Linked DNA regions of Homo sapiens. The protein of the gene in region 3 interacts with the protein of the main gene of each other region in a pairwise test. Each region holds a gene or a part of one and is shown on either strand. Other genes may lie near its edges.

Evidence for each region. The genes of interacting proteins can lie anywhere in the genome.
Region 1: the proteins of CUL3 (region 3) and RHOBTB2 interact in a two-hybrid assay, tested with the Homo sapiens proteins (2 studies listed by BioGRID).
Region 2: the proteins of CUL3 (region 3) and KLHL13 interact in binary tests that used the Homo sapiens proteins (3 or more experiments, as listed by UniProt).
Region 4: the proteins of CUL3 (region 3) and BTBD10 interact in binary tests that used the Homo sapiens proteins (3 or more experiments, as listed by UniProt).

What each region holds. Positions count from the first base shown.
Region 1 is NC_000008.11:23,009,548-23,013,047, forward strand, and holds part of RHOBTB2 (rho-related BTB domain-containing protein 2), read left to right. Parts: intron 1-990; coding exon 991-1,141; intron 1,142-3,500. UniProt on the Homo sapiens protein: Regulator of cell proliferation and apoptosis. It likely functions as a substrate-adapter that recruits key substrates, e.g. MSI2, to CUL3-based ubiquitin ligase complexes for degradation. Required for MSI2 ubiquitination and degradation.
Region 2 is NC_000023.11:117,917,811-117,921,310, forward strand, and holds part of KLHL13 (kelch-like protein 13), read right to left. Parts: intron 2,561-3,500; coding exon 2,428-2,560; intron 1,908-2,427; coding exon 1,711-1,907; intron 1-1,710. UniProt on the Homo sapiens protein: Substrate-specific adapter of a BCR (BTB-CUL3-RBX1) E3 ubiquitin-protein ligase complex required for mitotic progression and cytokinesis.
Region 3 is NC_000002.12:224,501,864-224,505,363, forward strand, and holds part of CUL3 (cullin-3), read right to left. Parts: intron 1,960-3,500; coding exon 1,789-1,959; intron 1,210-1,788; coding exon 1,102-1,209; intron 1-1,101. UniProt on the Homo sapiens protein: Core component of multiple cullin-RING-based BCR (BTB-CUL3-RBX1) E3 ubiquitin-protein ligase complexes which mediate the ubiquitination and subsequent proteasomal degradation of target proteins.
Region 4 is NC_000011.10:13,411,223-13,414,722, reverse strand, and holds part of BTBD10 (BTB/POZ domain-containing protein 10), read left to right. Parts: intron 1-1,072; coding exon 1,073-1,193; intron 1,194-3,500. UniProt on the Homo sapiens protein: Plays a major role as an activator of AKT family members by inhibiting PPP2CA-mediated dephosphorylation, thereby keeping AKTs activated. Plays a role in preventing motor neuronal death and accelerating the growth of pancreatic beta cells.

The DNA.
Region 1 (3,500 bases), on a different chromosome or scaffold from region 3:
GCTTCTGAGCGCAGGGACTGGGTCTTTTTCCTTCTGCCAAAAACCCTCTCAGCGCCAGTCTCTTGGGAAATGCTCACCAAATGCTTGAATGAAAAACAGAACCAAGCACGAGGCTGGGCTGCATCGCATCCCGTGATGTGGAATGTGCATTTTCTAAGATTTCTGGGAAGGAAGTACTTAAGGAAGGCTAAGTGGAAGCGTTGGGAGTTGGTCTCTGAAGTGGGAGTAGGATTTGGATATACAAAATGTGAGACTAGGAGCTCTCACAAGCCCCAGGGGCCTGCCAGCCCCGGGCACTTCTCGGTACTGTAGACGCCAGCTTTAAACTTCTAGCCAGTTCCCAGCACAGCCTGGAGAGCCTGATGAGAAGGCAGTTTGTGTTGCAGCGCTGCTCTCAAGAGATCCTGGAGGCCCAAAGCAGCAGCTCTGAGCAGACAGAAAGAAATCAGCTGCTGTGGGCCTTACTTATTCTGTATCCCACTTCTGTTCTGTGCAGGGATGGGAGGGACTGAGGTGTAGATTGAGGTGACCAGAAGGCCTCCTTCAAGCATCCCGCGAGCAAGAGCGGCTTCCAAAGGGTGCCAGTGAGTAGTATCTGGGTCCCTTTGGAAGAGTTTAGAAGCTGGACGCCATGGCTTGTGCCTATAGTCCCAGCTACTGAGGAGGCTGAGGCAGGAGGAATGCTTAAGACCAGGAGTTCAAGACCATCCTGGATGGCATAACAAGACGCTGTTTCTAAAAATAAACACATAAATGATAGTAGAGGCCTGTACTCTGGTGCTGTCAGCAAACTGGGGCTCAGCACAGGTTGTCGCTCTAGGGGTCAGGTGTTCTCAGGGTCTTCTCAGCAGATACACATGCAGCACAGGGAAGGCTGCCCGTCTGGGGGAGCCTGGGTGTGAGGGCCAGAGCTCTTCAATTTCTCAGGGTTCAGTTCATCTTCTCCTAAGCAGGATCTCATTGCTGTCCGCTCACTCCTTCCCTCCCCAGGTGGTGTTTCCCTACACAAGCAAGAGCTGCATGCGGGCCGTGCTGGAATACCTCTACACCGGCATGTTCACCTCCAGCCCCGACCTGGATGACATGAAGCTCATCATTCTAGCCAACCGCCTCTGCCTGCCACACCTGGTTGCCCTCACAGGTAACTAAGCAGTGCACTCGGGGACCTCCCCGCGGCAGAGGCCAGGGAAACCCCAAGGTGCAATGTTCTCCTCTCACGTCTCTCCTGGGGGACAAGCTGATGTCCAAGGGACTAAGCGTACATGAAATGGAATCTGTTGACGGGCACAGAGTTCTGGATGAGGACACAGAGTGAAGAAGGGTGGTGCGGGGCATGTTTGATGGGGTCACCTGAGAGGCTCTCTCCAAAGGCGATTTAAACCCAACAAAATGGAACATGAGGCTGGGCACAGAGGCTCACACCTATAATCCCAGCACTTTGGGAGGCCAAGGCGGGAGGATCACTTGAGGCCAGGAGTTTAAGACCAGCCTAGCCAACATGGTCTTACCCGTCATGGCAAACTGCCATGAAACCCGTCTCTACTAAAAATATAAAAATTAGCTGTGTTTGGTGGCAGGCGCCTGTAATCCCAGCTACTCGGGAGGCTGAGGCAAGAGAATTGCTTGAACCCGGGAGGTGGAGTTTGCAGTGAGCTGAGTTTGCACCACTGCACTCCAGCCTGGGTGACAGAGTGAAACTGTGTCTCAAAAACAAACAAACAAAAAATGGAACATGACAGTGCTTTATGTTCTTTGCTTGGCTTCACTTGGACAAGCTTAAGAAGTCAAAAAATAATAGAACACAATTCCCACATTTCTACCCTGTGGTTCTCCTCCTTCTTCCTTTCCTTTTATTTTTCTTCTTTTGCCTTTTTTCTTCTTCCCCTACCTTTGACATCACCTTCTCATCCTCTTTCCAGAAACAGCACACAAACATCCCTGCCACTCCTTAGTCCCTGCACGGATTGTACGAGCCGGAGCTCAGCTTTTAGTGTGGACAAATCCCAGGGGCTCTCTGAGTTGGAACAAGAACTGAGTCATGGGGGAGAGCCAGCGGCAGGCAGTCTGGGTCCAAGGGGCCAGGGAAGAGAAGTGGTGCTCGTGGGGTGAAGGGAGCCTGGGGCCAGAGACCCAGGCAGGCAGACGGCTCTCGTTCATGTTGGAGTTGGCACTTGAGTTGCTAGTGGTGGCGGCAGGGGTACCAGCGCTGGTGTTGATGCCGAGGTTAATATTCTTGCATAGGTCGGGGACAGAGAGCACATCCTCACATACTGAGTTGAGATTCAGGGAAGAACCCAGTGTCAGAGCTGCTGGGGTCCAGGCAGATGATCAAGATCGGGGCTCAGATATGAGGGAAAACAGCAATCCGTGAGGAAAAATGAATGATAAGGTGGGGCTGGGTTACAGAAAGAAGGCAGAAATCATTGATCAGAACCAGAATATTAAGAGCGGAGGCTGCAGTGGGAGTCCAGGGTCCCCAGAAGGGGATAAAGGGAACTTTGGGGCAGGTAGCAAGAGAGGCATCTAAAGATCCCAGCTACAACAGTATATCTTGTTTTGCTGTCCATAAAAAAATGGTGTGATCTTCCCAGAGCACATAAAACTTCAAATTCCTAGATGGAATAATTCCACTTTTAAAAGACTATCTCCAGAGAAATGACCCAAAGGGGAAAAATGCATAAAGGTATTTCTAGAAGTTCATTTCGTCATGGCAGGCAATTGAAAGCAAGTCACAGAAAAACCGTTGGTGAAGCACACACAGGCAGTTTTCACATGGTAGTCATTAAAAATGTTAAACTAGACTGCTGCATGGAAAGGCTTATTGAAAATAATGTTAAGTAACTTTTCATGAAATTATCGATACACACTAGGGAACATCCACAAAAATGTTTATATCTGCCTTGTTAAGGATCAGGGGAAGATGCCAAGTTTTATATAATTGGCGATGGTTTAAGTTTTGTGACATATGCTTCCTATGAGGCCATTAATTCAAGTTGAAAACTTTTATTGCTCAGTAGAACACAAATACATAAAAGCATATTAAACATATGTTCAGGTTACTGAATTACTATTGTTATTATGTTTTTTTAGAGACAGGATCTTGCTCTGTCACGCAGACTGGAGTGCAATGGCCTGATCATAGTTCACTGCAGCCTCAAATTCCTGGGCTCAAGCGATCCTCCCAACTCAGCTTCCCAAGTACCTTGGACTATGGGCCTGCCTCATCACACCCAGCTAATTTTTAAATTTATTTTTATTTATTTATTTATTTATTGACATAGAGTCTCACTTGGTCTCTCAGGCTGGAGTGCAGTGGTGCAATCCTGGCTCACTGCACCCTCTGCCTCCTGGGTTCAAGCGATTCTCCTGCCTGAGCCTCCTGAGTAGCTGGGACTACAGGCATACACCACCACACCCAGCTAATTTTTGTAATTTGAGATGGGGTTTTGCCATGTTGGCCAGGCTGGTCTTGAACTCCTGACCTCAAGTGATCCACCCAC
Region 2 (3,500 bases), on a different chromosome or scaffold from region 3:
TTTCCTTAATTTGGCTCAGGATGACCATGTGTTGCTAAGATCAGTGTAAAGCAATGTTAAGAGTCTATAAGTACAAGCTTTAAGTGTTACTACTAAATTAAATTCTGGACTTGAGGCATTTTGAAAATCACATTCAATATGATTCATTTTTCCTTGAAATGAAGTTGTTATATCATGCCAGTGACACAACCAGAGGTGAGATCCTAATAGCTCTTGAGGGAATGGGCCTTGCATGATCAAATTTAAATAAAATTTAGCACCTAAATTCAGTAATGGAGGCAAGCAATAGCATGGGAATTAACCAACTTCACTTGGGCTACTTTCGCAATAAAGAAGACAATACAAGTCAACAATATAGCACCATGCTGCCATAAAAACCCTTAAAAGTAGCAATTAGTTCAAATTTTATAAGTAATTGTGAGACAGCAGTCTGAGTTTTCTAAAATCAAACATACAAAAAACACACTTTCAATAGGCCAGTTAAATTAGTTATTGGCTGACTTTTAAGATAGTTAAGTACCTTAATAATAAAATAATTAAGGACATGGCTCTCTTGAAACTTAGTGTTTTAAAGAAGGTTCCATGTTCAAAAAATGTAAGTTGTAAAGATCTAACAGCAATTATTTACCTATATTAAGATTCATATGAGTTAAAAAATTATAGAAAACATATCCATCAACATAATGAGTTAGAAAATATACCAAAAATTAATATTGCCAGAATTCTTAATCAGAAAAACAAGCTCCAAGACCTCTGGAAGTCTTGGCAATATTTCTGTCCAATGTAGCCATTTATCTCCCCAGAAGTAAAATTTAAAGGTCTCAACTAAAATAAAACACTCTCTTCAGGAACTGGGTGACTATCATTAAGTACTCCATCGATTGGTAGTTGTATGTGTCCTATCTTATCTATTAAAAAATGGCTAAACACTATTCAGTAGGTGATATGTTTCTATGGAATCAAGACTTACATTCTTACAGGTTTGCCCATAGGTATTAGTTCTTCTTAAGATCTAGCTCCCTTATTAAAAGAAGAAATTTTAAAGAGTTCTAGAAGCTCAGATTACTTTTCCATTCAATTACATTTAAGAAGCCTGCTTGTATAGTCATTAAGGTGAATAAAACCAGATTATGGTACATACCATTATCAAACAGTTAAAGTATATATCTTCATCAAACATTATTAGTATCTCATGTCATTTGATTACACAGAGGCTTTTTTTTTCTTCCTGAGATGGAGTCTCACTCTTGTTGCCCAGGCTGGAGTGCAATGGCGTGATCTCAGTTCGCCACAACCTCCACCTCCCAGGTTCAAGCGATTCTCCTGCCTCAGCCTCCCAAGTAGCTGGAATTACAGGCATGCACCACCATGCACAGCTAATTTTTGTATTTTTAGTAGAGACGGGCTTTCTCCATGTTGGTCAGGCTGGTCTTGAACTCCCAACCTTAGACGATCTGCCCGCCTCGGCCTCCCAAAGTGCTGGGATTACAGGCGTGAGCCACGATGCCCGGCCAACACAGAGGCTTTTATTAAATGATTCTATTTCATAAAAATGCACCTGTTTCAATCTCACCTTGCTTACAGACCACATACAACAAGACACATCTGTCTAATGGCAAGTTTCACATTCCTGCACAGCAGATTTCATGAGTCCTAAACAGGCTACATCAGAGTCTACCACAGGAAAAATCAGATTTCAAAATATCTTACCCCAGATATGAGAAACACTTTACAGAAGTCCAAAACTGGCAGAATCTGTAGGAAACTGGCAGCTTCCAGCGTGTCTTGAAGGTTGTCCATATTAAGAGAAAGCTTTGCAGTATAAATGAAATCAATAATTTTCCTTAGACCGACTTTGCTCACACCATGAAGTTTAATGCACATTAAATCTTGTTCTTTCATTCCACCTTAAATAAAAAGACATTCAATTAAATGAAGGTGGATAATTATGGTCAAACTCACTTCTGCTGCTAATTAGATGCAATAAAATCAAAGGAAAGTCTTATCTTATATAAGCAGTCATATTAGAGTCAGTCTGCTGCACATTTTACTGTTAAAAGAAAGTACTTAAAAAAGATAATCTCTATACTAATGGAGGTCATATATGATGCAAGTGCTTCCAAAATGTTCTCACTTCCTATTTTTTGACATAGAGTAGAGATTGTACTAGGAGGACACAGAGTCTCTGATGGCCCACTAGATATAAGCTTGAAAAAGAAAAGCTGTGAGATAAAGATGGACAGTATGAAAAAAGTGCATCAATTTTCCATGTTAAAACAGCACCACCGAAAACCATACATACTGTTGTGTACTTCTTTTGAAGCTGTTTCCAAAAGAACCAAATTTCATGTTAGAAATAAAAAAGATTTAAACACGGATTTTTCATATTGTTTTAATGTGGTTTCAGAGTTTTAAAAGGCAAACTACCTGTGAACATAGCCTTGAAGTAATCACTAGCAGATGCCATCATGACTCTATGCACAGGGAAAGCATCATCTGTGTCACCTGGCATCAGGGTCACATCACAAAGCAATCCTTCAAGTCGAAGCTGGTCAAAGCCCTACAACAAGAACATGAGTTGAGTCACTAATCAAGGTAAAATGAGGTTACAAATCTTCGTGTGCTAAAATTGTTTGAATATTAATGTGGTGCAACATATGTGGAACATAAAGCCAACAGAATATTCGGGAGAAGAAAAAATAACTGCACAACTTTCCTGATATGTGACAATGCATGTTTTCTTTCACTGTAGGAATAACACAAAATTAAGACTAATTTAGGTTAAAAACGATTAAGGAAAAAGTATATACTTTTGCTTATTTACACAATTATCAGCTTTTACCTTATTTTGAAAAATAATTACAATGTGCACTTCTACTTTCCCATCTGCAGAATGAGAGTATTAGACTGTCTTAACATTCCTTTTCGCGATAATTTAATAGTCCTTTTATAGTGCTTGACTGAAGCATCTTGGTTTTGTTTTGTTTTGGGGGAGGTTGAGAAAGAAAAGTAGAGAGCAACTGTATTAAGTACACGATAGTTCTTTCTACTAATTGTATTACTTCATCTCTTTGAGAAGCCTATACTCAGTACATTGCTGCTGCCTGGCCAAATATCTTTCAAGTTTCAAGTTTGAGACTTAATTATCTTTGTTTGAAAAAAAACAAAAAAAAGCCCAGGAAACCCCAACATGAGACTTAATTGTCTCCAAATGCCTAAAGGTTTAGTGGAGAATTAACAGGCTAGCAGCCACAATTCAGAGGAGTGACAGAGCTCTGGTGAGAAGAATCCTTGTTGATTAGCTTTTTCACTACACCCTGATGGTCTCAACTAACGACAAATAGACAGTTGTTCTATTGATATAAGTTGGAAGAATGACAATCACTTTTAAGATTATAACAGGTTGAATCTACAACATACACATATTTCAAAACATCATGTTTTTCAATTTTTATCTTTTATTTTTAATTTTTGTGGGTACAGAGATGTATGCTTTAGGG
Region 3 (3,500 bases):
AGAAAAAAATTTAAAAACTTACTAGAGCAAACAAAAAAATACAAGAAAATATATCAATATATTAGATTTAACTATAAATTCCTAAACAATCTAAAAATAAAAATCCAGGATAATTACACCACTATTTCCTGTCCACCCGAAATTTCTGTCATGGACTTGCATCTTTCCTCCTCTCAGCTCTTCTCCACTGTAAACACTGATATTTATAAAGCAAATCATACAACTATTTACATTAGAGTCAGAATGTTTTCATAGAAATGAATGGTTATTCTACAGAATTACGTATTTTCACGTATCTGGTTTGCGAGACTATAAGGCCAGTAGAAGTGATGATCTCATATTTAGATACCAAAGGAAAAGACTCACAAATCTGTTAAATGGTTGTGACACATTTTAACCATAGAGTGGTACACGGTGATTTTAAAAATTTAAAAACTGTACAATTCTCTAAACTTAAGGTTAAGTTGAAAATCAGAGTAAAAAATGAAACTAAATTCTGAATTTCATTAAATGCTCATAAAACTCCCATCAGACTCCAAAGCTAAAGAAGTTCCAGCTCACCACCTTTGGGGAGTTATACCAAACACATTTATAATACATTAATTTCTGTGTTTTTATAGTCTCACTTCACCTGCTACGCACCCTTAGGATGTAAGTCCCATTTAAGCTAAACTTACAGAGGAGAATAATAGTAGTGAGGTATAGGAAGGTCAGGTGACTATCCCAAGATGACACAATCTTGGGGTAAAGTGAAAAGAAGAGTACTGAAACTCAGTAAACTTGTGTTAAGCCCAGTACTCTTTCCACAATTTATAATAGATTTGTATTATCTTTATTAACAACAGAATAATTCTCTTTATTAAATTGTCAGTGTATTCCTTCAAGTGGGAAGAAACAACTAAATTTTAAAAGAATAAAAAGTTTTAACATAAACACAGAATAAGAGGCAATGTGAAGGAAAATTAAGTACTCACAGATAAAACACATGTTGTCACTAATGACATTTAAAGAAACAACTGTCATCTGCTAAGTGGATGAAAATATACCCATTACAAAAGACTTTACATGAATATCTAAGTAGAAATTAACGCAGAATCTTACACCAGTTGCCTGTAGATGTTGCCTGAATTCATCCATCGTTGTGTTTGAGATGCTCATATCCCTAAACATTCCTTCCAGTTTTGACGTGAACTGACATCCACATTCAGTCTGTGGAGGAAAAACACAAATATACACAAATAAATGGTAGATGTTTCTATGAGAAAGTACAGAAAGAAATAAATTATTTCATGTTATTGCTATCCCTGATAATCTTCCTGTAAATTTTTCCAACAGTTGCTCTGTGCCTGTGGTTATCAAACTTTAGGATTTTAAAATGCAAATTCCCAGATTCTTTCAGAGATTCCAATATACCCCCATGAAAGGCAGGGCCCAGAACTGTTTTTAACTAGCATCTCAGGTGATTCACGTGCAAGTATTCTATGGACCACACTTTGTGAAAAAGAACTACACAGCATAGCCTCTTTATTGTTTCCCTTTTACTAATCCTCCCTTCCAGGCCTCCATGAATGTATCCTGACACACCAACAGAAATTCCAGCAAACTCTGAATGTCCCTGAACTTGAACAAATGTTAGTGTAGTCTGTGTTCTTCTCCAAAACAATCTACCTTTATTTCTAGAAATAAACACTTAATAATCTACCAAATTAATTTCCAATCACGTTGTCAGTACACAATCATAATAAACCTCAGTTAGGTGCACTCTATTTCATCTAAAACACACCTTACCTTTAACTTAGATATCATGTTTTTTTCAGAGTCATCAGAAACACTTTTATTTGTGAGAAGTCTCCTTGCCAAGTGTTGTTTATAATAACGTTCAAATACATCTTTTTCTTGCATAAACCTAAAAAGGACCATTGCTTTATCCAATATTGTTTCTACTTCTTGTTCTGTTAGCTGCAAAATTAAGATGATGTAACAATTATACAATTTTAGTTCTACAAAAGCAGTACTACGGTTCATTTACAGCTTAAAAACACTATTGTTTGAAAACATAGATATCTGGTTGACATACATCAAAAAAAGGGATACGGTTTGAGAAAGTGTCTCCTACTTCACACAGTAGCATCATTCTTACATTCTCATTTAGTGCATCATGAATGAGGGGTTGGAGTGGAATTCTATTCCGTAGAGGGCTACCACTGAATTGGAGGCATAAGGTAATATAGCGCTGGGTTAAGGGATGATTGAGAACAGATGAAATGAAATTTTAGTCACAGAGATTATTTTATGAAGCCTTTGCATATGCAGGCAAAAACTTACACAGCCAAAAGACGGAATTTTTCATTTAAGCTCACTGAAAGCCTCAACTGTGCAAACAAAAGGCAATAATTTGTTATAATCCAAACAGTAAAAAGGCCATTGCCCTTACTTTATTTTTTTATTTCTATTTTTTTTTTCTTTTGAGACGGAGTTTCACTCGTTGCCCAGGCTGGAGCGCAATGGCGCCATCTCGGCTCACCGCAACCTCTGCTTCCCGGGTTCAAGCAATTCTCCTGCCTCAGCCTCCCGAGTAGCTGGGATTAGACATGCACCACCACACCCGGCTAATTTTGTATTTTTAGTAGAGATGGGTTTCCTCCATATTGGTCAGGCTGGTCTTGAACTCCCAACCTCAGGTGATCCGCCGCCTTTGCCTCCCAAAGTGCTGGGATTACAAGCGTGAGCCACTGTGCCTGGCTGCCCTTACTTTTAAATAAGGGCAAAAGGATTCTGTGGCAGGTTGTATTAATATATTTGAAAAACGGAAGACCAAATGAATGCATAAATTAATAGACTTTTCTATTCTGTGCAACCTTAGTGATTTTGTTCCCTTATTGCAGCTACTGCCTGTAAAACCTGTGACGACATGTTGCTTTTCCCTTTGGTGTCACAAATTCCAAAATGAAGTCAAAAGAGACCAATTCAGATGTGAGCATGTTTTATGCTTCAGTTGATTTTCTATGCTGTCGTGAGCTCCTCAGGTTCCAGAGATATCATATATCACAAAGGCTTGAAATTGAGCTACACCAACCATTTTCTGAGATGAGATCTACTCTATCTATGCCTTAATATTCTTGGCATCCAATTATTGTTTGACATATAACCTTCAGAACCAGATGAGAGCAAACAACACTCTCTACTAGAAAGTTTTCTAGTTCTTTATCTTCAGCATGCCTAACTCTCAGTCATAAAAATGACTGTTTACCAACTACAGCTGTGTAGTTGTTCAGTTTTTTTTTTTTTTTTGAGACGGAGTTTCGCTATTGTTGCCCCAGCTGGAGTGCAGTGGCGTCATCTTGGCTCACTGCAACCTCCGCCTCCTGGGTTCAAGTGATTCTCCTGCCTCAGCCTCCTGAGTAGCTGGGATTACAGGCATCCACCACCATGCCCAGCTAATTTTGTATTTTTAGTAGAGATGGGGTTTCACCAAGTTGGTCAGGCTGGTCTCAAACTCC
Region 4 (3,500 bases), on a different chromosome or scaffold from region 3:
GATTACAGGTGTGCACCACCACGCCTGGCTAATTTTTGTATTCTTTTTTTTTTTTATTATTTTTATTTTGAGATGGAGTCTTGCTCTGTCGCCCAGGCTGGAGTGCAGTGGCGCGATCTCGGCTCACTGCAAGCTCCGCCTCCCAGGTTCATGCCATTCTCCTGCCTCAGCCTCCCGAGTAGCTGGGACTACAGGTGCCTGCCACCACACCCGGCTAATTTTTTTGTATTCTTAGTAGAGAAGGTTTCACCGTGTTAGCCAGGCTGGTCTTGAACTTCTGACCTCAGGTGATCTGTCTACCTCGGCCTCCCAAAGTTCTGAGATTATAGGCGTGAGTCATGGTACCTGGCTGAGCCAGGTCTTAATTTTGGGGAAAAAGTGTTTTTTTAGCTGTCCATATTTCCCCTTGTGGAATTGAAAAGAATTTTTATCACTCATCTCTGAAGTAACTTATCTGTGATTCTGGGGTTGTCCTTTAACAACTTACTAAGTGGATTTTGGAAATAATTAATATTGCTTGTCATAATATGGAATCACCAAAGGGTAGTATTAAAAGAAGAATATCTAATGGTATGTCTTATTTTACATATTTTAATACTTGAATATGACTATAATTCTGTACTAAAAACCTCACATTTTGTTAAATTATCTAGGTAGTATTTAAGATAACATATCATTCAATTTCCTTACTTTTTAAAAAAATGTTTAAAACTTTATGATGGTTTCGTAGAAATATAACTTGTAGAAGGAAAATACATATGCATTGGTGTGATGTCATAAAGAAGACATGAATTAGGTAACAGGGAGCCCTATATTCAAATCTTACCTTTGCTTTTAAATAATTTTATGACAGGCTAAGTCGGTGAATTCATTTGGACCTGAATTTTCCTTATAGGTAAAATGAAAAAGTAGTTAGGTGAACGGAGGTCTCATCTAAGTTTAAACTTCCACATTTCAGAGATGTCAGAGTTCTCTACTGTTTCTGAAAATGTTACCAGCCCTTCCTTAATAATAAGTTTTGGCTACCTTATGCTCCAGATATTTTATGCTTTCTTTACTTTTCTTTTTCCAGGATTACTATAAAACAGGAATAATCCGTTGTCCTGATGGCATATCTATTCCTGAACTGAGAGAAGCATGTGACTATCTTTGTATCTCTTTTGAATATAGCACTATTAAATGTAGAGATCTCAGTAAGTATGATGTTTTGTGTGTAAGTGGTTTGTAGAATTAGAATATATTGGAACAAAAAGCCTGAAATTAGTGCTATTTACCTAGTTAGACTTAAAGTATTTAATTCAATTATAAAGCATTCTAGTACCACAAAGATTATTAATGAAAGCTTGCAAAGACCTTGATGATCTCCTTGTGCAATTTTCCAAATATTTTTTCAATTTTAATAATTTTCTTTTTTGACAAACCCAGATTTCCTCCTAGACAGTTTTCTATATTATTTATTTGTTACCAGTTTTATCTCCTAGATTTGGATCCTTGGCTTTGGTCAAGTGTGGTCATTTGGCTGCATTTCTTTGATTACATCATCCAAAAATTTATAATTTTTTGTATTACCACGTGTGATAATATGAGCACTATGGAAAACACAAATAATTCTCAAAAACAATACCTATCATTAAAGATCCTAGATTGAATGTCTAGCCCTCATGTATACATAGGATTAAATGACTTCATCCAAGAACTTCAAATATTGTCTCAAAGCAGTGTGTAGAAGGTTTTAATCCCAACTCTTTGATTGGTATTCTTCTCTCACTACTTCTTCAGCACCCCTACTCCCATTGTTACTTCTTCAGCACCCCTACTCCCATTGTTTCTCCCAACCCTGAGAAAAGATGTGATTATGCACAAAAAAGTCAAAATAGTGTATGAGAAGTATCAAATGTTGACTTAGGTACTTAAGCCAACACTTAAGTGGTTGGAGAAGTTCAGAGGAAGGGGAAGTCATTGTGGGCTAAGGATCGTGGAAGAGTTCAGTGGAAATACGTAGTAAAGAATGAACTAAATGATTTACAAAGAGTAGATAGTATTGTTTTGGGGAATTATTTATATCTTCCATAGTGCCCAGGATATCATCCTACATGGTAATACAAAAAATTCTCAGAGCTGAGGTTTCTGGAGTAAAGATGTAGTAGGTATACTTTGGAAATACAGTAGATCCAATAGATTGTCCAATAGATTGTTAGACAGCCAGAACATACAACTGTACATTTGAACAACGTTGCTGGGTTTTTGTTGTTGTTGTTGTTGTTGTTTTTGAGATGGAGTCTCGCTGTGTCACCCAGGCTGGAGTGCAGTGGTGCAATCTCAGCTCACTGCAACCTCTGCTTCCTGAGTTCAAGGGATTCTCCTGCCTTAGCCTCCCCAGTAGCTGGGGTTACAGGCACCCATCACCACACCTGGCTAATTTTTTTGTTTTAATAGAGACAGGGTTTCACTATGTTGGCCAGGTTGGTCTTGAACTCCTGAGCTCAGATGATGCACCTGCGTCGGTCTCCCAAAGTGCTGGGATTACAGGTGTGAGCCACTGTGCCTGGCCAGAGTTGCTGTTTTTTCACATCTTAAAAAAATGATTTTAGGGGCTGGGTGCAGTGGCTCACACCTGTAATCTCAGCACTTTGGGAGGCAGAGGCGGTCGGATCACCTGAGGTCGGGAGTTCGAGACCAGCCTGACCAACATGGAGAAACCTCTTCTCTACTAAAAATACAAAATTAGCCAGGCGTGGTGGTGCATGCCTGTAATTCCAGCTACTCGGGAGGCTGAGGCAGGAGAATTGCTTGAACACGGGAGGTGGAGGTTGTGGTGAGCCGAGATTGCGCCATCGCACTCCAGCATGGGCAACAAGAGTGAAACTCCATCTCAAAAAAAAAAAAAAAGTTTTAGTTGAAACCATGAGCATTATAGATCCCTGATTTCAAGTTTTGTGTCTATTCATACGACCATTTAAATTAATCTTTATATAATTAATGTTGAATTTTGGTGACTGGCAGAGATAGAAAAAAACTAGAATTTTTTACAGATGATGTGAATCTCTTAGTTCTGCAATCTTTTGTTGTGCGTAGTTTACCTTGTCATTACTACTAAGTATCTTTTATTTGTTACAGATTAAAAGTAAGGGTTTTATGTAAAATATGTGTAACATGATTATCCTAGACTTTTAGCTTTTCAGTAATATTTGTAGTTGTTTCTAGATTACTTGTAATATATGTTACTAAAAATTTAGAGATTCTCAAAGACGTTTTAAAAAAAAACTATATAGAATTTGAAGAGATGGAAGTGGTCTTGTAAAAATGTAGGTAGACTTTAATCCAAAAGTAAATTTTTTTTCTTGCAAATATATGCCTTTGCTGAATATTTGGAATGGCACTTTGCACTAAAATATCTGGGCTTATATCTTAATTTAAGAAGAAATTATACAATTTGCTTGCATGTTCTCTCTCTCTGGTTGAGGCACTCTTTTTCAGTTTGTGGCATTAAACTAGTTTGG